Linked DNA regions of Homo sapiens. The protein of the gene in region 1 purifies or fractionates together with the protein of each later gene. This does not show direct contact. Each region holds a gene or a part of one and is shown in the gene's direction. Other genes may lie near its edges. The genes, in order: IPO13, HK2, TMEM9B, XPO4, PWP2, MOCS2 and SYNPO2.

What was found.
Region 2: the proteins of IPO13 (region 1) and HK2 purify together in Homo sapiens (affinity purification with mass spectrometry; one large-scale study listed by BioGRID and IntAct). This does not show direct contact.
Region 3: the proteins of IPO13 (region 1) and TMEM9B purify together in Homo sapiens (co-immunoprecipitation; one large-scale study listed by IntAct). This does not show direct contact.
Region 4: the proteins of IPO13 (region 1) and XPO4 fractionate together in Homo sapiens (co-fractionation; one large-scale study listed by BioGRID). This does not show direct contact.
Region 5: the proteins of IPO13 (region 1) and PWP2 fractionate together in Homo sapiens (co-fractionation; one large-scale study listed by BioGRID). This does not show direct contact.
Region 6: the proteins of IPO13 (region 1) and MOCS2 purify together in Homo sapiens (affinity purification with mass spectrometry; one large-scale study listed by BioGRID and IntAct). This does not show direct contact.
Region 7: the proteins of IPO13 (region 1) and SYNPO2 purify together in Homo sapiens (affinity purification with western blotting; one study listed by BioGRID). This does not show direct contact.

What each region holds. Positions count from the first base shown.
Region 1 is NC_000001.11:43,963,950-43,966,235, forward strand, and holds part of IPO13 (importin-13), read left to right. Parts: intron 1-319; coding exon 320-372; intron 373-2,286. UniProt on the Homo sapiens protein: Functions in nuclear protein import as nuclear transport receptor. Serves as receptor for nuclear localization signals (NLS) in cargo substrates.
Region 2 is NC_000002.12:74,886,127-74,889,626, forward strand, and holds part of HK2 (hexokinase-2), read left to right. Parts: intron 1-167; coding exon 168-267; intron 268-363; coding exon 364-547; intron 548-1,776; coding exon 1,777-1,932; intron 1,933-3,118; coding exon 3,119-3,352; intron 3,353-3,500. UniProt on the Homo sapiens protein: Catalyzes the phosphorylation of hexose, such as D-glucose and D-fructose, to hexose 6-phosphate (D-glucose 6-phosphate and D-fructose 6-phosphate, respectively).
Region 3 is NC_000011.10:8,954,443-8,957,942, reverse strand, and holds part of TMEM9B (transmembrane protein 9B isoform a precursor), read left to right. Parts: intron 1-1,644; coding exon 1,645-1,753; intron 1,754-3,500. UniProt on the Homo sapiens protein: Enhances production of pro-inflammatory cytokines induced by TNF, IL1B, and TLR ligands. Has a role in TNF activation of both the NF-kappaB and MAPK pathways.
Region 4 is NC_000013.11:20,896,247-20,899,746, reverse strand, and holds part of XPO4 (exportin-4), read left to right. Parts: intron 1-3,500. UniProt on the Homo sapiens protein: Mediates the nuclear export of proteins (cargos), such as EIF5A, SMAD3 and isoform M2 of PKM (PKM2). In the nucleus binds cooperatively to its cargo and to the GTPase Ran in its active GTP-bound form.
Region 5 is NC_000021.9:44,106,122-44,110,198, forward strand, and holds the start of PWP2 (periodic tryptophan protein 2 homolog), read left to right. Parts: upstream 1-1,277; 5' UTR 1,278-1,295; coding exon 1,296-1,313; intron 1,314-2,862; coding exon 2,863-2,975; intron 2,976-4,077. UniProt on the Homo sapiens protein: Part of the small subunit (SSU) processome, first precursor of the small eukaryotic ribosomal subunit.
Region 6 is NC_000005.10:53,099,758-53,103,257, reverse strand, and holds part of MOCS2 (molybdopterin synthase catalytic subunit large subunit MOCS2B), read left to right. Parts: intron 1-1,033; coding exon 1,034-1,161; intron 1,162-1,748; coding exon 1,749-1,899; intron 1,900-2,723; coding exon 2,724-2,847; intron 2,848-3,500. UniProt on the Homo sapiens protein: Catalytic subunit of the molybdopterin synthase complex, a complex that catalyzes the conversion of precursor Z into molybdopterin.
Region 7 is NC_000004.12:119,028,354-119,031,853, forward strand, and holds part of SYNPO2 (synaptopodin-2), read left to right. Parts: intron 1-1,491; coding exon 1,492-3,500. UniProt on the Homo sapiens protein: Has an actin-binding and actin-bundling activity. Can induce the formation of F-actin networks in an isoform-specific manner.

The sequences.
Region 1 (2,286 bases):
GGCCGTTTCTTCAGCTATATGGAGTCCAGAATTGCTCAAGTACCAAGGGAACATGAGGGGATGGCCTGAGGAGGAGTGGGGAGTAGGCGGAAGGCCCCTTGGAGGGAGCTGGGGCAGGCCCGTCCTTCACTTTGCCGTCTCTTTCTGTTGGGCTTCTCCCAGTTCATGGTTTTTGTATGTTTTGTTTCTTTATCTTGCTTCCTGCTGCTCATGTGCCCCCACGCTGTCTCCCTGCAGGCTCTCAGTCCCACATAACTATATGAGGTTGAGTTGCTGTTTGTATAATTTTTTCTTAAGTTCCATCTTTATTATATTTTAGGGCCCAGGGATCATCCTGATATTGTTGATTCATTTATGCAACTCCTGGCACAGGTGTGTTTTAGTTTTATTCATTCACGTTCTGTTCTCTCTCTTTCTCTTTCTCTTATGTTGAAATTCAATTTAAGCCTATTTTTAGCTTTCTGTTGACAAATTTTTTTTCTGTTCAGTTGAATAGAGTTTCTTCATCTGTTTCCGTGGAAGTTGACAACCCAACATCCTCCTTTAGTGCCCCTATGCCTCACTAGCTCAGTCTTCTACAAAGACCAGGGAGAGGCTGATCCCAAACGGAGGGAGCTGGGCTGGCATCGGGTGGGGAATGGGAAAGGGAGGGGGTGGTGACTGCGCCCAGCAGCTTCTTGTTGCCCAAGAAGTTCACGTGTAGGGCTGGAGTTGAAGGGTCTGGGGTACACTGTCCCCGTGCTCCTGCCGGGAACTGCCTGCCTCAGTGCCCCCAGCCTGCTCCTGAGAGGTAGGCTGGGAGCAGCTCCAAAGCGAGGGGCTGAAGAGGAATGTGCGCGGTGGAGCCCAGAGTTGGGCTGTTGGAGAGGTTGAGCTGCTGCTAGGAGGTGGAGTGCAGGCTCCATGCTAGGATGTGTTTGCATTTTGTATGTGTTTCAGTGTGTGAGACCTTATTTTGTATGTTTTGAGTTTGGTTTGGGAAGGGAACAGAAATCACCTGTAAGTAGTATGTGAATTGTGTTGGGTGCTGAGATGAATGTGTGCCTTGATGTGTGCTGTATGTTGATGTGTTGTGTGTTTTGTGTTGTTTGTTGATGTGTTAGGCCTTGATGGATTTAGAGCGTGGACGTGTGTTGGAGGTGTGTGTGTTGGGTTGTCGGAGTGTATATTATGGAGGATAGGAGTGTATGTTGTGGCATTGGTATGTCTGTATCAGAGTATGGTTTGGAGATGCATGTTGGGCTGTGGGGGTATGAAGTTAGTGTGATGGGGGCTTCTGTGTGTTAGGGGATCCTAGCACGCAGACCCCCTAACCTGTGAATTGGGGTAAATGGAGTGTTTCTTTGCTTAATCATTCCACAGATATTTATTGAGTGTGTGATACATGCTGTACTTTGCTAGGTACTGAGGATATGATAGCGAGCAAAACCAGGCACAGTTCTTGCTCTCCTGGAACTTACAAGTCTAGTTTCTGGGGGATGGGTAGGGTGGGAGGAGGGAAGAATAGGGAGTGTTCTGGGCCTGGATGGATATGTGTGTGGGTGTTTTCAAAGGTGTATCTTTGATGCGGAGGGTGTCTGAATGTGTATTTGTGGATGGGTATGTTGGAAGAGTGCACAGGGGGACTGTGGGAAGGCTGAGGGTGTAGGTGTGTGGACATGGTTTGGGGATGTGCAGGTGTTTGGTGTATGACTGTGTAATGAGGGTGTGTTCCAGATGGGGAGAGTGTGTGTATGTTAGCGGTGTTAGAGAAGTGTGTAAGGAGGGCATTTCAAGTGATGGTGCATGTGGGGGTGTTTGCACATGAGTAAACATGGGGGGTAGAGGGGATGTGAGGGGCTGGAGGGTAGAGGTCTATGTGGTATGCACTGGGGGCATTGCTGGGGAGCAGCAGTGTTTGAGGATGACTGGAGCTGTGCAGAGCATCTCCTGTGACCTGAGGATGTGCCAGTCATGTCCTGGTACCACTCGGGGCAGGCCATCTGCCCCCTTCACTTCATCTCTTCCCCCTCACCCACAGCAGCACTGGCTCCTTGGTGTGTGTATGGCCGAAGAGGGCCTGGACACAGGGTACCCTGGGTGAAAGATGGGGCTGAGGCTCCAAGGCTCCTGCTGTACTTTTCTTCTTTTTGAGCAGGAGCTGGAGGGTGCCTCAGGAATACAGGAGGGACATGGGAGGAGGGCTGTTGGGCTGAGGGCTCCCTGTCTGGCTGCCATCTCTTCTTCCTGCTACCCTGTTCACAAACTGGGGGTGCTTAACTCCCTCTGTGAATCAACATGAAGTCA
Region 2 (3,500 bases), on another chromosome or scaffold:
GGGTCTCACCAAAGAGGTGACATTTAAGCACAGACCTGAATGGAATGAGAGGGTCAGCCATGGTGTATGATATATATTTTATATACCTGTAAATCTCCCATGCAATTGTCTGAAAGGAGAATATTGGGGTTCACCTGTGAACTGGGCATCTGCTTCTTCCCTCTCAGGAGTTTGACCTGGATGTGGTTGCTGTGGTGAACGACACAGTCGGAACTATGATGACCTGTGGCTTTGAAGACCCTCACTGTGAAGTTGGCCTCATTGTTGGTAAGGACCCAGACTGTCCTTTCCACATGGGGATGCACAGCCTTGGGTGTGGAGGGGTTGGTGCTGAGTGAGGCCCTGGTATCCTGTGATTGGCAGGCACGGGCAGCAATGCCTGCTACATGGAGGAGATGCGCAACGTGGAACTGGTGGAAGGAGAAGAGGGGCGGATGTGTGTGAACATGGAATGGGGGGCCTTCGGGGACAATGGATGCCTAGATGACTTCCGCACAGAATTTGATGTGGCTGTGGATGAGCTTTCACTCAACCCCGGCAAGCAGAGGTAGGCACCCAACTGGGGCCCTGTTAAGTGTATCCCAGGACTGGATGGCAACAAGTGATCAGAGCTTCCACAATGGCATCTCCCAGGACGCCGGTTCTCGTGAGATGTTAATAAAGGAGGTTTTCTTGGAAAGGGTTTCTTGTCGAATGCACCTGGAAAGTTCTGAGTTAGTAAATGTAAGAAGCATCTCCCACCCAAAAGCCTAGGAGAACAGGTGGGAGAATACTAGACCCTAGGTCTGGCACTCTAAGGAGAAACAAGTAGAAAGTTGAAGCACCTGCTGCTGACAGGCTGAAGAGCATCTCTTGGGTGATGCAGACAGGAGCAAATCCTCTCCCTCCTCCATCTTCCAGCGCCGAGCACCACCTACTGTCAGAATTGAGCAAGGGGCCAGCCCCAGTGTCACAAGGTCCTGTGCATGGTAGGGGAGCGGGGTCTGAGCTAAGAGACAATAGCTTAAGATCTAACACACTTCTCATTAAGATGTTGTCTGTAGTGTTTCCTAACTAGATTAATCAAACACCCTAGTCCTGCAGAATACGCTTTGCAAAACATGTGTCTAGAATAGAAGTTACAGACTAAAATGCCTCTAGGGGCCAGGCAGGCAACATTAATGAAGGAAGCAGGCTGGGTCAAGATAAGATGGGGTGGTGATGGGCTATTGGTTGAAACTAGGGACCTCGTTTTTTTTTCAAGGCAGGATTCAGGACCAAAAGACCCTCAAGCCACTGCATAATAACGTTTAGTTCCAGTGGCCAGGATGGGGGCCCTACAGCTGGCAGTAGTTACTTGAGTAATGATGGTTAGGTCCAAGAGAATGTATACTGAATGCCTAGTGAGGTTAAAGATTAAGACTCAGCATTCTCCCCTGCTCCGAGAAGTCCAGTGGGGTTATGGTGTGTTCCTTCTCGAGTTGCTTCTTGAAATTTCGAAATAAGCCTTGGAAAGGAAATGAGTTCCTTTCCCTGTGGGTTCCTTTCCAAGGCTTATTTCCCCAGGAGCCCCACGGGCCTCGGGCACTGTGGTCAGTGTTGCTGAAGGTTGTGAATTAGCATGCAAAGACACCAGGGATCCTGCCCAAGTGAATCAAGTAGCAATTCCTTTCCCATCAGGGGAGTCTGCCTGTCTGCCACTGCTGATGCACTGGGGGTGACTAAGCTGGCCTGTCCTGTCTCAACACATCCCTCCACCTTCCTACTTAACCTCCATGAATGTTACTTGCATTGCAGGTTCGAGAAAATGATCAGTGGAATGTACCTGGGTGAGATTGTCCGTAACATTCTCATCGATTTCACCAAGCGTGGACTACTCTTCCGAGGCCGCATCTCAGAGCGGCTCAAGACAAGGGGCATCTTTGAAACCAAGTTCTTGTCTCAGATTGAGAGGTGAGAGCTTAGGGCTCAGGGTAGCAGGGGGGCCATGTCCTTTTTTCTCACTGGCAGACAAACTGAAGGATTTCCATAACTCAGGGCATGACTCATACAAAAGTCAGTTTAGTGGCAAACACATTCATGTCTATAGTGTTTACTAAAAGCACATTATGGGCAGTTGTCATTTTAAGGGCAAACAGAGCATTCTCATGAAAGTTTGTGCTAAGCCTGGCCTGAGGTCATGCAAAGTGATATTGTTGGGTTTTAGACCATGTATCAAAGGTAGAAAGATACCTGCTCATAGCATGTAAATTGAAACGCACAGAGGAAGATAACCTATTAAAGCATCCACACTTGGCTTGAAAGCCCTTCCTAACTGCTGGCTGCAGTAATCAGGCAGCCAGGATTGAGTAAAGGTTGGAACGTCAGGCAATGCAGACACATGCCACACAGTGGCTCATTAGAGCAAAGCCTCCCTCCTACAGTCAAATGGTGGAAAATCTCCAAATTAGAACAGTGAATTTCAGAGCCCTTTAAAAATTAATGCTGTGCCATTACTCTCAGGGCAGAGAAGAACAGGAACTAGACAACTGATGTGAGTAGACCCCTCGGGCATCTGCACCAGTGAATAGAAAGATATATTCTAGCTTATAGGTCTGTTATGTTCAGCGAGGTGATTCCAGGCTTCTAAAATAGCTTTCTTTATATAGGAGGGTTTATTTTCTTTCTATAACTTTATTTACACTTCCTTCGTAAATAGCATATAAATACAGTTCAGACCACCCAGAGCAGCAGAGCAGAAATAAAGCACGAGTCTAATGCTGCTTGGTTAGTTCCTGCCCTGCAAACCCATGAACAGCAGCGAGAAAATGGACATGAAAGAGCTTTGTAACTGACCACTGTGATAAACAGTGAATTTGCTTTGTTTTGAGTATCTACTTTGTAGTAGTAATGGTCTATCTGGAGTAGGGAGAGTAGAATGAGGAGCTGTTTGTATTCCTGTCACCGTCAGGAAGAGTCAATGCAGTGCAGTAGGTTGAGCAGTGGTCTGAATTTAGGAATGGGAACCACCTCGAGGGGCCAGCTCCTGGAGAGCTAGACCCCCACAGAGCCTCCCCTGTAAGGACTCAGGCCCTGGTGTGGTAGGCTACCAGCCTTCTTGGTGCATGACTGAACACTTGCTGTCTCCCTCCCACCCCAGTGACTGCCTGGCCCTGCTGCAAGTCCGAGCCATCCTGCAACACTTAGGGCTTGAGAGCACCTGTGACGACAGCATCATTGTTAAGGAGGTGTGCACTGTGGTGGCCCGGCGGGCAGCCCAGCTCTGTGGCGCAGGCATGGCCGCTGTGGTGGACAGGATACGAGAAAACCGTGGGCTGGACGCTCTCAAAGTGACAGTGGGTGTGGATGGGACCCTCTACAAGCTACATCCTCAGTGAGTGCCTGATCCCAGCCCCCCCTGCCTACCTTCTTTCTGTCTTTGTTCTTTCCCTTTTCTTTCTCTCTTTCCTTTGTTACTTTATAGTGAATTATCAGCCATTCCAAATAGTGTATATAATACATGGATTATAGTTTAAAGATTC
Region 3 (3,500 bases), on another chromosome or scaffold:
TCAGGTGATCTTCCCGCCTCGGCCTCCCAAAGTGCTGGGATTACAGGCATGAGCCACTGCGCCCGGCTGAAATTAATTTTTAATTGACACAATAACTGTACGTATTTATGGGATACATAGTGATGTTTCAATTCATATAAGATATAGTGATTTGATCAGAATATTTAGCATCTCAGACATTTATCATTTCTTTGTGTTGAAAATATTCAAAATCCTCCTTCTAGCTATTTGAAACTATAATATATATTATTGTTGACTATAGTCATCCTACAGGGATATAGAACACTAGAACTTATTCCTCCCACCAAGCTGTAACTTTGTTTCCAAAAAGTACATTTTGGTGGGGAAAGAGAAGGAATCACTCTATAGAGTATTGGGTGTCCCCAAGAGAATGGGTAAGATAAGATAGGATGGTGTAGTAGAGTGCTTGAGGCAGCCAGGAATGCCTAACGAAGAGATGCCAAAAGGAAAGAAAATTGTCCAACAGCTGGCAGGAGGACAGGAAAGCTTTCCCTAATTTTGCTGAAGGTGATCAGAGTCATAGACTCTTAATAGTTGAGGAGAATAATAATTTAGTTATTGCTTAGAATTGACAGATTTCTAGGAAAAATCTGATAGCACTGTGTTTACACAAACCATAAATAATTAGCCTTGAAAATGGGGTTGGGGAAATAAGTAACATTCAACAAAAACACTCATCCCTTTGTTAGTTTTTATTTAGTTCTTTGGAATAACCAGTTTTTGTTTTAAAATATTTTAGTTATTCTATTTCTCCTTGCTTTTTCAGATTTGCTCATTAAGAAAAGTGATTGTTTCTTCCTGTGTGTGGCTTTGAGGGTTCAATTTTCAGAGTTTCAGAATTTACCACGCTGTTAAACGTGGTTAGTCATTCATACACCACACTGGCAGTTAAGAATGATGTTGGCTGGGCACGGTGGCTCACACCTGTAATCCCGGCACTTTAGGAGGCCAAGATAGGAGGATCACTTGAGGCCAGGTATTCAAGACAAGTTAGGTCAACAAACCAAGACCTGATCTCTACAACAAATCTAAAAATTAGCCAGGCATGGTGGCAGGCTCCTGTAATCATAGCTGCTCTGGAGGTTGAGGCAGGAGGATCACTTGAGCCCAGGAGTCTGAGGCTGCAGTGAGCTATGATGGCACCACTCCACTACAGCCCATGTGACAGAGCAAGACCTTGTCTCTTAAAAAACAACAACAAAAAAGAATGATGTTAATTCACAAAAGAGATAATCTTATATTTGAACAGTGCCCCATATCACTTTAAACCATTTTAAGTAGTTTTCCTTAGTAACTGAACAAGTCTAAAGGTGACTTGATTTGTTAAGTAGTTTTTCATCCCATTTGGGATTTTTTGTGTGCGTTTTTGTAACTGTTAACAGTAGCAGCTTTGAAAATAGACACTACTATATGTGTGACTTTGTGGCTTCTTAAATGGTTAAAACTTACCAAAATGCTAATATTGAGAGCAGAAATTATTTTACTTTATCTTATTGATTATTTGTTTTTTATGCTCTTTCATTGGGTAAGTTTAGTGATTATTCTAGATTTCAGGAAACTTTTGGTCAGAGCAAGCAGAAGAGCTAGCTGGGCTTAAGCAGCATTTTATCTTTGTTTTTTCAGTGATTGCCTTCATGTTGTGGAGCCCATGCCTGTGCGGGGGCCTGATGTAGAAGCATACTGTCTACGCTGTGAATGCAAATATGAAGAAAGAAGCTCTGTCACAATCAAGGTAAAATATATATCCCTCTATCTACCTGTCTGTCTGTCTGTCTACGTCTTTTCTGCTTCTGGATGGTTTCTAGACAAGACAGAAAAATTTGGACCCCTACCCCAAAAGGAATAATGGGCCTGTTCTGCCTGCCTCACTGACATGGTTTGTGGATTAGTTAGGGTATGTTAGATAGATATGTGAAATGGCACAAAAATGCCCTATGTGTAATTAGCATATTCCAGAAAGATATCCCAGCTTCTGTGTAGGCCATGTGTGCCAGAGGCTGAGAGAGCAGCATTTATAAGCCCTCCTCTCCTTGCCTTTCCAGCCCTTTGAAAAAATTAAATATATAGTAATTATTCTAGAACTATTACTTCTGGATTTTAAGATTTCCCCTCTTCATTTCCTGTAGGACAGTGGTCCCCAGCCCCCAGGCCACAGCCCAGTCTGTGGTCTGTTAGGAACTGGGCCACTCAGCAGGAGGTGAGCAGTGGGCAAGTGAGCAAAGCTTCATCTTATTTACAGCTGCTCCCCATCATTCGCATTACCACCTGAGCTCCACCTCCTGTCAGATGAGCAGCAGCATTAGATTCTCATAGGAGCATGAACTCTATTGTGGACTGCACATGTGAGGGATCTAGGCTGCATGCTCCTTATGAGAATGAGAATCTAATGCCTGATGATCTGTCACTGACTCCCATCACCCCCATATGGGACCGTCTAGTTGCAGGAAAACAAGCTCAGGGCTCCCACTGATTCTATGTTATGGTGAACTGTATAATTATTTCATTATATATTATAATGTAATAATAATAGAAATAAAGTGCACAATAAATGTAATGTGCTAGAATCATACCCAAACCATCCCCTACCACCCCTGGTCCATGAAAAAATTGTCTTCCATGAAACTGGTCCCGTCCCTGGTGCCAAAAAGGTTGTGGAGTATTGCTGTAGTAAATGGGATGTAGATCACTCTCATCACCATTTGTATTTCTAATGAGTTCAGTTACTTTATTATAGTGGCTAATGGTTTTTCTTCCAATTTTTTTTTTTTTTTGAGATGGAGTCTTGCTCTATTGCCCAGGCTGGAGTGCAGTGGTGTAATCTTGGCTCACTGCAACCTCCGCCTCCTGGGTCCAAGCGATTCTCCTGCCTCAGCCTCCTGAGTAGCTGGGATTACAGGCATGCACCACCACGCCCAGCTAATTTTTGTATTTTTAGTAGAGACAGGATTTCACCATGTTGGTCAGGCTGGTCTCGAACTCCTGACCTCGTGGTCCACCCATCTTGGCCTCCCAAAGTGCTGGGATTGCAGGTGTGAGCCACCGCGCCTGGCCTAATTTTTTTTTACATGGCACTTCCCATTCCTTTCCCCCCAAAAGGCCCTGTGGGGAATGTGGGGTGGTTAGTTATAATAGTCACAAACATTTCTGCTGTGATTGACCCTGTGGAAGAGCTCTTGCTCCAGCAGGGTGCTGAACTTTAGATAAATCCTCACTGTACTATTATTTAACAGATTTGTAAAAAATATACAACTTATGTACCCTAAAAGTCACTCACTATAAGTATACAATTCTATAAATTTTAGTAGATTTAAAACATTTTAAAATCCAGTTTCAGGCCAGGCATGGTGGCTCACATCTATAATCCCAGCACTTTGGAAGTCCGAGGCGGGTGGATCACTTGAGGTCAGGAGTTCGAGACCAGCCTGTCCAACGTGGTGAAACCCCATCTCTACTAAAAATATAAAAATTAGCCAGGTGTG
Region 4 (3,500 bases), on another chromosome or scaffold:
TTTTTGCTTAATTTTTCATTAGGTAACTCATATAGTTGTTTTATGGAAATCAGCATAGAATTTTAGAACATAGAAGAATCTTAGATCTTTTGGTACAGAAGTCTTAGGGAGTCTAGGATGAATATCAAAAGGAAATTGTAACAAATTTTTTGGTGTAAATGTACATTTTTAGTAATAGGGTCTAGAGCTTTTATCACCGTCTCTGAGAGACTAGAAACTGAAAAATAAGAATCAAGTCTAAGCATTCTCCCTTCTATGCTACAGATGGGGAAACTGAGGTTCAAAGAGGTAGAAGTGACTTGCCCAAGGTAGGTCACAGAGCAAATTCATGATATAACTGATCCAGGCTGAGATCACCAGACTCCCCTTTCAAAACCTTTACTCTTTTTTTTTTTTTTTTACTTTTTTTACTCAACCATGTTGGTTCTTAGTCAACATATACTATAAATGTTACATTTTATTACTTGATGGAAAATGTCTAAATATGGTACATCTATATTCAATCAATTTAGATTATTGGATAAGCTGCCAGATAAAGTAGTACAGTTGTCCCTCGGTGTCCATGAGAGGTTAGTTCCAGGAACCGCCTCCACCCATGGACATCAACCGTGCATTGATACTTAAGTCCCCCCGATCCCCTCCCTTTCTTTTGAGACAGGGTCTCTGTTGTCCCAGCTGGAGTGTAGTGGCATGATCATGGCTCACTGCAGCCTTGAATGGGTAATTTTTTAAAAATATTTTTTTGTAGAGAGGATCTCACTGTGTTGCCCAGGCTGGTCTTGAGCTCAAGTGATACTCTTGCCTTGGCCTCCTAAAGTGCTGGAATTATAGGCGTAAGCTACTGTGCCCAGGTGAGTTTCTTACATGATATGGTATGGTAATTGTGTATGACCTATGCACATCCTCTTGTATACTAAAATGTAGGAGGTGTTTTGATTTTAGAGACAACATTATTGAAAAGTTTAGTGTTCTTATAGTATTGATGCCACATTCATTTGCAGTCCAAAGAGCGCTTTATTTATTGTCTTGAATTTGCTTGGTTTTGTTGCCCTGTCTTCATTAGGTTGTTTTGGATTGTCCTTAGTGATTGTGTGTAGCAATAATATAAGATAGTGCAGAGCACACATATTAACTGATACATTATAGAAAAGTAATTTTCATAGGTTTTTTTTTTCCTTTTTCTTTTGAGACAGTCTTACTCTTGCCCAGGCTGGAGTGCAATGGCACAATCTCAGCTCACTGTAACCTCTGCCTCCCAGGTTCAAGTGATTGTCCTGCCTCAGCCTCCCAAGTAGTTGAGACTGCAGGTACCTGGCACCACGCCTGGGTAATTTTTGTATTTTTAGTAGAGATGAGGTTTCAACACGTTGGCCAGGCTAGTCTTGAACTCCTGACCTCAGGTTATCCTCCCACCTTGGTCTCCCAAAGTGCTGGGATTAACAGGCGTGAGCCACCGCACCCGGCCCATACATTTGTTTTTAAACCAGGATGGATTTAGTGAGTGTAAATCCAACTTTAATAAACGAGATTCATGACTGGTTTTCATAGATTTTATTATAGTGGAATCTGGTTAATATCTTCTAAAATACTTGCACATCTGTAGTCCTATAGAAAAATTTTTGTCTTCATTCTCATATCAGTCCTGTGAAGTAAATAGGATGAGATATTCCTAAACCTTATAAATGAGAAAACCTGGCCAGGCATGGTGGCTCACACCTGTAATCCTAGCACTTTGGGAGGCCAAAGTAGGTGGATCACCTGAGGTCAGGAGTTCGAGACCAGCCTGGCCAACATGGCGAAACCATGACTCTACTAAAAATACAAAAATTATCTGGGCGAGGTGGTGCATACCTATAACGTAATCCCAGCTACTTGGGAGGCTGAGGCAGGAGAATCACTTGACCCCAGGAGGCAGAGGTTGCAGAGATTGTGCCATTGCACTCCAGCCTGGGCTGTAGAGCGGGACTCTGTCTCAAAAAAATAGAATAAATAAATAAATAAATATGAAAACCTGATATTCAGAGATGGCAAATGATTTGCCTGTTGTCATGTAGCTAGTTTGGATCTGGAATCCAATTTCTGGCCATTGATTTGTTTTAGAACATTTCTTCAGTATATAGAAACACAGCATGTTAGACACTATGCTGTGTATGCTGAGGAGACAGAAGAAGCACCTTCTTTTCAAGGAGTGGAGAAAGGCAAAAATATTAGCAAATGTTGGTTGGTAAAGTTATAATAGAAGTAGGTACAAACATCTATCTCAGGCTGAGATAGGGACTGAGAAAGGGCTTCTTGGAATAGGTAACCCTTAAGCTGAATCATGAAAAATAGATTAGAGTTTTCTAGTTTGATAAGCAATATCCCAGGTGGAGATATATATTTTGGGGAATATAGTCTGAGAGAATATAGTTTGGGGAAATACAGTGAGTTTGAGGAATATTTGAGCATTTATGTAGTAGATATTTCCTGAGACCTTCAATGTGTAAGGTACACTGCCTTTATTTTTTTGTAACCACAGTACACGTCATAAAAATGAAAATTTTAATTAATTGAACCTACTTTTCTTATTTGAAAGATGCATTATAGTAAGTATGCATTTTTGTTTATTTCAGCCCTGTCTTGTAGTACCTGCGGTGGCACTAGATATTAGAAAACTGGCACAGCATTCTTTTTCTCAAAAAAGCTAATTAATAGGAAATTTATGTTTCAAATTCAGTTCAATTAAATGTGTATTTGCAGTTGGACTTGTGTCACACTAATTGGAACATAGCCAGTGATCCAGAGAAGAAATGCAAAAAGGCATTTGAAATCATCCATAGATGCCTAAAAGGCAGTTGTTAAAATTTAACAGCATTTTATGATTAAAACAATTGGATAAACTAGGAATTGAAGGGAATTCTCAATATGATAACAAATAGTTATCTGAAACCATGTATTAAATGATGATATCCTCAGAAGTAAAACGGGAGTCCTAATATAACTGTTATTTAATACCTTCTGGAGGGTCTAACTGATACAGTAATACAAAAAATGGGAATAAGTGCAGATATTGGAAAGAAAGGCCAAAAAATGATTATTTGCAGGTGATATGACATTTCGGAAAAAAAGTTTAAGCAAAATAACTAAGACTGTTGGAACCATTAGTTCTTTGGAAAGATGACCAGATGTAAGAAAAATAAATGGGTTGCAAGATTTCCTTTATATCAGCAGTGATCAGCTTAAAATTGGAAAAAAGATCCCATTCTGTTAGAAAGAAAAACTGTAGAAATAAATTATAGGGCACTGATAAGAAACATGCACCATTTTTGTGAAGAACATGATACAGCTTATTTGCAGAATATAAAAGAGCTGAATTAAATGAAGGCTATGCTCCTTGGTCTGAAAGGTCAATCCGGTTAAGGTGGCAATTTCTCCCTCATTCATCTCTAAATTGAATATAATGTCAATCAAAATCTCTCTTTCCTCCTCACCCTTTTCTGAGGTGGGAGAAAAATTAATTG
Region 5 (4,077 bases), on another chromosome or scaffold:
TTAAAATTAAGTTTTAAAATGAAATCAGACACTGCAGGTTTGTATATAAAATGAAAAGCTATACTACTTTTTACAAAAGGGCAAACTGGGCTGATGTAAATGTTTTACTTTCAACTGTGTTCTTTAAAATAAATCCTACCTGGTTTTTAAATTTTATTTTTCATGAAAATGCTCCTTTCTCTACATTTATTCATCCTATATACATCAGGCTGTAAGACCCCCCCCAGTCATCATTAATACAATGTGTTGGGATTCTGTGACTGGAAAAGGTGACAAGTTGGTGACTTTGACACTGCAGGTATTCCATTTTCATGGTTTACTATGAAAAGTCATTTTTCATATTATGTAATATATTGTTAGATTAAAACCATTGTATTAAGACTTTAAAATGTAAGCATTGTAATTCTGAAAATACACATTTTAAGAAGAAACTATTTTGCACTGGATCTTTTGCTGCGACATGGTGTGACAACAGTATGTAATGTGAAGATTTTATTGTTTTATCTCCCTAGTCCTTGTTCCTGACTCTTGGGCATAGATTATTTGCCTTTTGGGAAACATTCGGATTATTTTTTTTTTTTTTTTTTTTTTTTTCTCTGAGACAGTCATGCTCTGTTGCCTAGGCTGGAGTGCAATGGCGCGATCTGGGCTCACTGCAGCCTCCGCCTCCCAGGTTCAAGCCATTCTCCTGCCTCAGCCTCCCGAGTAGCTGGGACTACAGGCATGCGCCTCATTTTTATACTTTAGTAGAGATGATGTTTCACCATGTTGGCCAGGCTAGTCTCGAACTGCTGACCTCAGGTCATCCACCCGCCTCAGTCTCCCAGGCGTGAGCCACCGCACCGGCCAGCATTCGGGACTTTATTCATAATTCCTTACCCAACAGTTCACAAGAACGAAGACATTTGGGTGTGCAGCGCTCTCATGTTGTGGACGCTGCTGTGCCAGGCTGGGCGTCCGTGCGGAGCGCGCCCAGCGCTGGAGCGCGCCTAAGAGGCGCCCTGCAGTGTGGCTCCGGGGTGTGGGCGGGGCCCGGAGAAGGCCCCCGCCTTGGGAGGGGTTGGGCCTCGCGTTCAAACTCCGCCTCGGGGCGGGGCGAGGGCGACGCAGCTCCTCCTGCCTCCTGGGCCGCTGCGGACGGTGGTGCGCGACCCCGTCCCGGGCGCGCGCGCTGTGGGCGGTGCACGCCGTCGCTTCCCGGAAGTGCGTGCTGTGGGCGGTGCCGCGCGGACCCCCGGGAAGTGTCTCTGTGGGCGGCCGCCGGGTTGAGCTGCGGCACACGTGCGACGGCCGTGATGAAGTTCGCTTACCGGGTGAGCGCGGGCGGCGGGCGGTCTGTTGGATCGGCGCGGCTCTTCCGGTGGACGGCGCCTGAGCTGGCTCCGGGCGGGCTGGGGGCGCGTGGTCTGCTTTTGCGGCGTCTGGCCGCGTGGGGGTCGCCGGCTGTCTGCGCGCCCGTGGCCTCGGGGACGCGGGGCTGTGGTGGGGCTCCTGGGAGAGCTGGGACGGAGGCGCCGACGGCTTCTCGGAGGGAACAGGGACATTTGTCGGGGTCCCGGGATATTTTTAACCTGAGTATGGCCCAACCTAAAGGCTGGAGTTGGTGCAGTCGGGGAGGGCACAGCACCCTCGGGAGGGATGAGGAGGTGGGACGGGGCGGGGACGCGGGCGCGCGCAGGCGGGGTGAGAACAGCAGGGACCCGGGGCCCGGGACTGGTCCCTAACGAGCGAGCGTCCAGGTGAGCGGAAGGGCGGGGAACCCAGGTGTGAGCTCTGTTTCCCGAGGCCGGAGGGAATTCCTGAGGCGGACGCCCTCAGCTTTGAGAGCCAGGGAAGACTTGTCCCAGATGTGAAGTGCAGGAGGCGGGTGAGACAGGTAATAAGAGGGGGCCGTGGAGCCGGCCTGGGGGTCTCTGAAGCGTTTGCTACAGCTGGCCGGTTATGGGGACGCCTGTGTTTCCCACAGTGGCCCTGACCGTTGCGCTTCCAGGGTTGCACGGGCCGCCTGCTGCTGAGCCCACCGTGTACTACACTTGTCCTGTCCGAAACTGGGCATGGTACTGGCCCCTCAGAGTGCTGCTCCTGTGTCCCCTGTGCTGGTGGAGCCACCGCTGTGTGCCCAGCACCAAACCAGAAACCATATCCACGTCCTCACAGGCCAGGACTTCATCCGCTCCACATTCCTACTGCAAGGTGGCAAAAAATGTGCCTTGGAGCCTGCCTGGCCGCTTAAAGTCCTTCTGCTGACCAAGCTCCTCCCTGAGGTCCTGAGGGCGCTGCCCACTCACAGCTTCAGGGCCTGGCTGGTGCCTTCCCATTTAGATTCCAGCTCAGGTGACCCTTCCAGGTGCCTCTCCGTGACCACCGTCTAAAGTAGCCCCTGCTCCCACACTTCTCATCCCCCTCCTGCTAGAGAGAGAATATAAGGTGTGCGTGTCTGTGCGCATGGCAGTCTCCAGTGAACGCTCGTGCTCGTGAGTTAGTAAATAGGATGCTGGCTTACCACACTTCTGGAAGCCCTGAGTTCTAAGCACTTTTGGGGTGCTGTTCCATTGTTGCAGCTTTTTTCTTGGTGAAGTGTGGGCTCCATGCCCCTCTTCACCTGGCAGACGCCTCCTGTCTTGGGAGGCTTCCTCAGTGCTCACAGGGGCATCTTACCCATCTCTGTGGGAGCTTGGGGCCGCCCGGGCTCCTCTGGTCTCCTGAGGATCAGGCTCACTTCTTCCTCTCTTACCCAGGAAAGGTGAACGGGCCCCCAAGGTGGGGTTCTCTATGCCATCTCTCTGCCCAGATGCCTCACTTAGTGCTTTTCTGGGAGTCGACTGTTTTCTTTGTGTTAAGACAATTTTGTTTTCTTCACAGTTTTCAAATTTGCTGGGTACGGTGTACCGGCGTGGGAACCTAAATTTTACCTGCGATGGAAATTCAGTTATCAGTCCCGTGGGCAATAGAGTCACTGTATTTGACCTTAAAAAGTAAGTATGTGAAAGTGGTATTCATAATAGTGATACTGATTACTATTATCACCATTTTTTAAGTAACATATGAAAACTGATAGTGTCTTCTGTGCCTTCCTTTTAATGGTGCACCCGTTAATTAAGGGAGCCCAGGACAGGACTACAGGACAGACTAGGGTCAGCAGATCAGTTGTGGAAATTGGCAGCCAGACCCAGTTCTTCGTTGTAGTGCCTTAGCCAGGCCCCATAAAGTGGTGTGTCACTTGGCTCCGTTCTGTGGGAAGGGACCCTGTCCCTGTGCTGTGAAGGGTGGGTGGGGGAAAAGGTGTAGCTCAGGGTTAGCCCTTCCCCCATCAGGGAAGGCCCCTAAGGGCTGAAAGGCCAGGGCTGCTGGGGGAGTTGAAGGTACCTTGGACCCCTGCTCGGGAGCCCTGCTGCCACTGGGCCTCACCAGTCGGACGGGCAGGCCCAAAGCTTCCAGCTCTGCAGCCGGAGGTCAGTTTTATTCGCTGGGGTTTAGCGGTTTCTTCCTGTGTGCTGTTGCACTTTGCTTCACTTTGTTGCACTCTGGCTCTGTGCGGATGCTGTTTTACCACGAAGCGAAGGTGTGTGGAAACACTGCTTGGAGAAAGTTGGTCGGTGCCATTTTTCCAGCAGTGGGGGCTCACTTCATGTCTCTGTGTCACATTTTGGTAATTTTGTGATATTTCAAAGTTTATTATACCTGTGAGGGTGATTTGTGATCATCTTTGCTGTTGCTATCGTGATTGTTCTGGGGTGCCGTGATCCGTGCCCATGTAAGACAGCGAGCTTAATCGGTAAGCACTGTGTGTGCTGTGCCTGCTCCACCGACCGGCTGTTCCCCACCCCCCCACGTCTCTCTTCCTCTACTTGGGTCTCCCTATTCCCTGACACAAACAATGCTGAAATTAGGCCAGTTAATAATGGCCTACAGTGGCCACTACGTGTTCATGTGAAAGGAAGAGTCACACAACTCTCACCTGAAATCAGAAGCTAGAAGGGACTCAGCTTAGTGAGGAAGGCATGTCAAAAGCTGAAATAGGCCAAAAGCCAGGTCTCTGCCACCAAACAGGCAAGTTGTGAATGCAAAGAAAAAGCT
Region 6 (3,500 bases), on another chromosome or scaffold:
GATTATATTTTAGTGATCATGTTAATAATGGATTACTTTTTATGTCATGCCTGATTCATTATGAATATTTATACACATAATTGAGTTTTGTTAATTTTTACACTTGCTTATTTTTATCATTCAGATCAAATCATGCCTCCTAACACATTTAATGGTGGGGAAAAAAAGAAAAGAAACTTTTTATCTGAGGAATGTGAGCCCGTCAGATAAAACATTAAGAGGCACAGAAAGGCACTGGAATGAAATGGCAGTCATGTCACTCCCCATTAAGCTGCATCATTACCTTTTTTTTCTTTTTTTTTTTTTGAGATGGGGTATCACTTTGTCGCCCAGACTGGAGTGCAGTGGCATGATCAGTTTCAGCTCACTGCAACCTCCACCTCCCAAGCTCAAGCAATTCTCCTGCCTCAGCCTCCCAAGTAGTTGGGATTATAGATGTGTGCCACTACCGCCTGGCTAATTTTTGTATTTTTAGTAGAGACGGGGTTTCACCATGTTGGCCAGGCTGGTCTCAAACTCCTGACCCCAAATGATCCACCCGCCTCGGCCTCCCAAAGTGGTGGGATTACAGGTGTGAGCCACTGGTCCCTTGAAGCCACTTATTATGAGGGCTGCAGACTAGCTGAAGCTAAGAAACCATAAAGTCCATATGCTGGACACTCTAACTTGTACCCACCCTATAGTTCAACAGTGTACAGCCAATCAGTGATCAACATTATCTCTGTATGCCAGTGAGAATTCTTGGTGAAACTTTGTATCATTGTATCAGCCCACTTTTTGTTCCCTTTGCCTTTACAAACCTGCTTGCAACAAAGGCCGAGGGAGTGCTCCCCAAAGGAACTCCCCAAGGTATCTTAGAAGCATCCTGGGCCACTGTCCTTGATTTGACTCATGTAAACTATATTTTGTGCCACAGCCTCTTCCTTTTACATCGACATAATGTAGAAAAAAATATAAATTGAAAGAGCCTATAAGTTGTTGAGTGTTTTACCCCTAGGACTTCTGTTAAGGTTTGTTAATGTATTATTTCTAGGAAAGATATGGATGAAGTTGAAGAGAAATCTAAAGATGTTATAAACTTTACTGCCGAGAAACTTTCAGTAGATGAAGTCTCACAGTTGGTGATTTCTCCGCTCTGTGGTGCAATATCCCTATTTGTAGGTGAGTTGTAATTTTCATTGCATCTATCACTGTATAAGACAATAGAAATTAGCATGTGCTTTCCATGTTCAGTGTTAACGGAGGAGTTTGAAATACTGAACTTTAAACCAAGATTACCGATGATGGTGGGTAGACTTTTTTTTAGTTCTTGTTTTGTTTTAGTAACCTTCAAATTAACCTATATTAAATTACAAGGCATTTTGAAAAGTAGGATAAAAGTCATTGTTAGGAGAGAGAATTCTAGATTTTCCAAAATTGAAGGTAAAAATGTACTTGATAGTCCTGGGAACATAAATATTTTCCTTTTAAGTATCTATTAGTCAGAAGAGGAATATTGCCCGGTTTGCCAGGTGAGTGTTTTTAGTAAGCTTGCTTAATCAGTGCTCATCTTTGTGAAGATCTGTTTTATTTTCCTAATCAAATTTTGTTTTTAGAAGATTTCAAAGTAGTTTTAGAAGAATTGGTATGCTGCTTGTTTACTATTAATTTACTATTAAAAATATTCCTTTTTTATTAACGTGCTATTTCTTTTGTAGGGAAAAACCTTATTTTAATTGTTTTCTTTTTCTTTTTTTTCATTTTTAAAGGGACTACAAGAAATAACTTTGAAGGGAAAAAAGTCATTAGCTTAGAATATGAAGCATATCTACCCATGGCGGAAAATGAAGTCAGAAAGATTTGTAGTGACATTAGGCAGAAATGGCCAGTCAAACACATAGCAGTGTTCCATAGACTTGGGTATGATTTCCTTTATCACTCTAAAAGTTAAGTGTAATTGTTTTCCATCTTTGTACTAACTCTGATTCTTGAATCTTTCTTAGTAATTCTATATTACCATGAGAGGAATATTCATGTATTATTTTTGGAGGACAATAGGGATGGCTGTTAGTACCTTTAGGGACTGCCTAGTGAGTTTTGATATTGGGAGAGCTCTTGTTGCCTCTGTTGCTGTAACAAACTGCAGTTGTGCCAAGACTTGCAGGCCCTATGACAATCTGTGACAGATTCTTTTTGATATAAATGCCTCGAAAGTCATTAGAGTGGTTTGCCTTTTTGTACCCCTAAAAAGAGAAGAGTTCTTGGCTTTAAAAAGAAGCCAGTAATTGAGACTGTATCTATCATACTCTGTTAGTTACTAGTTTGTTATTAATAACCAGTAGTTTTATTAATGGTTATTATCACTCCTATTACTTGATATGTATTATTTTAAATTTTGTATTATACTCGTTAGGACATAACTTTGTATTTCTAGGCATTACTTGGCACTGTGCCTTGTTGAGTCAGATGTTTGCTCTATCAATGAAAGGATTTTCCTTGGTGCCCATCAGGAGGGTTTAGTGGATAGATTCTAACAAATTAGCTGTAGCATCAGCCTCATCTACTGCCTCTGCTGAATGCTACTGCAATTAATTACTCTTTTCTAACTGTATGTTTACGTAAAATAGAACTACAGTATAATTCTAAGACTGCATACCTGGATTTTTTTTCATCTGTCTAGCAGATTCTTTAACACGTAGATTCAGAGATGATGGTGATTTTTTTTTCTCTTCATCTTGTTAAAGCTTGGTTCCAGTGTCAGAAGCAAGCATAATCATTGCTGTGTCCTCAGCCCACAGAGCTGCATCTCTTGAAGCTGTGAGCTATGCCATTGATACTTTAAAAGCCAAGGTGCCCATATGGAAAAAGGTAAGTTAAGAAAATAACACATTTTAGCATGTGGACCTGATTTTTCTCAGGAATTTTTAGATAAATCCCCCCATATTTATGGACTTTTTACTGACTGTAGTATCTTGTTTTCTTTATCTGTGAAATATCTTCTTTCCAAGATTTGTTAAGCATGAAAAATATGTGCCCCAAAGAATGCATGGCACACAGTAAGCCTCAATGAGTGATAACAGTGAGAATTCCTAGTCTGGACTGTTGGAGGGGTTCATACATGAAGTTATTTTCCTTGGATTATAATTCCCTTGAATTAGAGGGTCTTTCTGTTGGAGAGTGAGAATAATGCATTAGCTATTTAGGTAATGGCTAAAATAGAAATTCTTTAAAGTGAAAGAGGCTTTTCCTAGAGGTCCTTTTTAGGGAAGAAAAAAAAATGGTGAGATATTGCTCCCTCTGAGAAAATGCAGTGAGTGGATTTAAAAACAGAAATAGGAACTTCTGGCATGTTTTCTGTCAATAAGGGCAAGTAATTCTCTGGTTAAATAGAGCATTCTGATGGGATGAAAAGGCCCAACTCCCTAGTTTCTCCCCTGGTGTAGTAACATTAACAGTGGGATTGTTCTGTGGTTGCACATTCAATGTCTAGAATTGTCTAGAATTGCCTACAGCGTTGTGGT
Region 7 (3,500 bases), on another chromosome or scaffold:
TCTAACCTATTGTTATTCCTTTCAAAGCATATTTTTAGCATAACCATTTGTAGCTTTATTGGCAAGTGCTGTTAATCATTCCTTATACTTTAAGCATCTGTAGGCCATCTTCACATTTATAGCATATTAAACAAGAGTATTGAGACACCATTCACATACTTTACATGTTGGCAGTGAAGTTAGCAGCAACTGTGCAACTGTGACTGTCAATTTAATAAGTTGTATAACACTAGTCAAAAAAGGAATTCTATTTAGTAATAACCACAGTTTCAACTATTTTTCTCTAGAAAATTCGATCACCAGTAAATGCCTGTAATCATATTATAAAATTATTTCCTTGGATTATATTTTATTTAAAAAAAATTAACCATTAAGTCTGTGACAAAAAGAGCTAATTTTCAATCATAAAATAGTCAAAAATTTTTTCTTAATTTTCCACTTAACTGTTTTGAGGAATTAAAAAATTTAGGGGACTCACAGTCATTATCATTGAAAATATGATATAACTATAAATTATAAATGATAGATGCTATATGTTTAGTTGCTATAATTTGCCACCCATTTCTTTTTTATAATAGTAATAATGAAAGAAAATTTTAAATATTTTTATTTTTATAAAATAAAAATCATATTCTTGTTTTAAATGACTTAATTTCTGCATCAGTTTTTACACAGTTAAGTGGGTCACAAGTCAATTTTTAAATTTCTCCAAGGTTTATTCTTGCTGCAAGGAAAGTAATATTGTATTTCCAAAATAGCAATACATTTACAAACAAATCTGTCTAGAAAACTTTGTAGCTAGAGTTTCTTATATGTATTTACAATAATGTCATATTTTGAATTTTAATTATTGATTCAGTACCTTCAATGATTAATTCAGTGTTTTGAATTTATATTAATCCAGTAGCTGTGAGTGGAAAGATTTGGGGTGGTTGTCAGGGTAAAAAAAGAAAAAAGAGAAAGAAGAAAACCTAAATAGCTAAATTCATTACATTAAAACATTTAGAAAATTTTAAAACATCTTCTTGGGACGCTCCTCCCTTTTTAAGATTCCTGGAAACAGTTTTATATTGACACTTTATTTTAAAATATGGAAGTATGAGATATGTCTCATCTTGTTTTTCAGAAAATATTATGTCTTTAAATTATGTCCTTCTTAATTCTAATTTTATCCTATTAATTGACATTTACTAGCCAGTTTTTATTATTAAAGTGGAAGGATCTCTAGAGAAACAAATGTATGAAACATATATTCTAATCAGCATATATAAAATATTTTTATGTAAACAAATAGAACAGTATATTATTGTAGAAGGAAACATGTTAAGAGAAATAAGAAAAAGAAATGTGTTGGATTCCTTCAAAATTCTGTACTCAATGGCAATTTTTTACATATTTATTTTCCCCCAGGAGAGTTCATTTCTGAGTTGCTGTGGTGTCTTCCTTGAACTCATCAGCTCAATATAATTTTTTTTTTTTTGCTTTCCCTAGGGCTCAGGAGGAGTGAAAGCCTGTCAGAAAAACAAGTGAAGGAAGCAAAATCTAAATGCAAAAGCATTGCCCTTCTTCTAACGGATGCTCCCAACCCCAACTCCAAGGGGGTGTTGATGTTTAAGAAGCGACGTCGGAGGGCCAGGAAATACACCCTAGTTAGCTACGGTACTGGCGAGCTTGAGCGAGAGGCGGACGAGGAGGAAGAAGGTGACAAGGAGGATACATGTGAAGTAGCATTTCTTGGTGCAAGCGAATCAGAGGTGGATGAAGAGTTATTGTCTGACGTTGACGACAACACACAAGTTGTGAACTTTGACTGGGATTCTGGACTGGTGGACATTGAAAAGAAACTGAACAGAGGGGACAAGATGGAGATGTTACCAGACACCACAGGCAAGGGAGCCCTCATGTTTGCCAAGAGGAGGGAGAGAATGGATCAGATCACAGCCCAAAAAGAAGAGGACAAGGTAGGTGGAACGCCAAGCAGAGAACAAGATGCTGCCCAGACCGATGGCCTGAGAACCACGACTTCTTACCAAAGAAAGGAGGAAGAGTCGGTAAGAACGCAGAGCTCTGTGAGCAAAAGCTACATCGAGGTGAGTCATGGTCTTGGCCATGTTCCCCAACAGAATGGCTTCAGTGGGACATCTGAGACAGCAAACATCCAGAGGATGGTCCCCATGAATAGAACGGCCAAACCCTTCCCAGGGTCTGTGAATCAGCCAGCTACCCCCTTCTCGCCAACCCGAAACATGACGAGTCCCATTGCTGACTTTCCTGCACCTCCACCTTACTCTGCAGTCACTCCTCCCCCTGACGCCTTCTCCAGAGGGGTTTCAAGTCCGATTGCTGGCCCAGCACAGCCCCCTCCATGGCCCCAGCCTGCCCCGTGGTCCCAGCCAGCCTTTTACGATTCGTCTGAGCGAATAGCTTCCCGAGATGAGAGGATCTCAGTGCCAGCAAAAAGAACAGGAATATTGCAGGAGGCCAAAAGGAGAAGCACGACAAAACCCATGTTTACTTTTAAAGAGCCCAAAGTAAGCCCAAATCCTGAACTCTTGTCACTCCTTCAAAATTCAGAAGGCAAACGGGGCACTGGAGCTGGAGGTGATTCCGGACCGGAAGAAGACTACCTCAGCTTGGGGGCAGAGGCTTGTAATTTCATGCAAAGCTCCTCTGCCAAACAAAAGACCCCTCCTCCTGTTGCTCCAAAACCTGCAGTCAAGTCCTCATCCTCCCAACCAGTAACTCCAGTTTCCCCAGTCTGGTCTCCAGGAGTGGCTCCCACCCAACCTCCTGCCTTCCCCACATCCAACCCATCAAAGGGCACCGTTGTCTCCTCCATCAAAATAGCCCAGCCTTCTTACCCTCCTGCCCGGCCTGCAAGTACTTTGAACGTGGCTGGTCCCTTCAAAGGACCACAAGCAGCAGTAGCCAGTCAGAATTACACACCCAAACCAACAGTTTCCACACCAACAGTCAATGCTGTTCAGCCTGGTGCAGTGGGACCATCCAATGAGCTTCCAGGAATGAGTGGGAGAGGAGCTCAGCTCTTTGCTAAAAGGCAGTCGAGAATGGAGAAGTATGTGGTCGATTCAGACACGGTGCAGGCCCACGCTGCTCGAGCTCAGTCTCCCACTCCATCTCTCCCGGCCAGTTGGAAGTACTCCTCCAATGTCCGAGCACCTCCTCCTGTGGCCTATAATCCTATCCACTCGCCGTCTTACCCACTGGCTGCTCTCAAGTCTCAGCCATCAGCTGCACAGCCCTCCAAAATGGGCAAGAAAAAGGGAAAGAAACCCCTCAATGCATTAGATGTCATGAAGCACCAACCGTATCAGCTCAATGCATCCTTGTTTACTTTCCAACCTCCAGATGCAAAGGATGGCCTCCCCCAGAAGTCATCAGTCAAGGTCAATTCAGCCCTGGCCATGAAGCAAGCTCTTCCTCCCCGGCCAGTGAATGCTGCCTCACCTACGAATGTGCAGGCTTCGTCAGTGTACTCG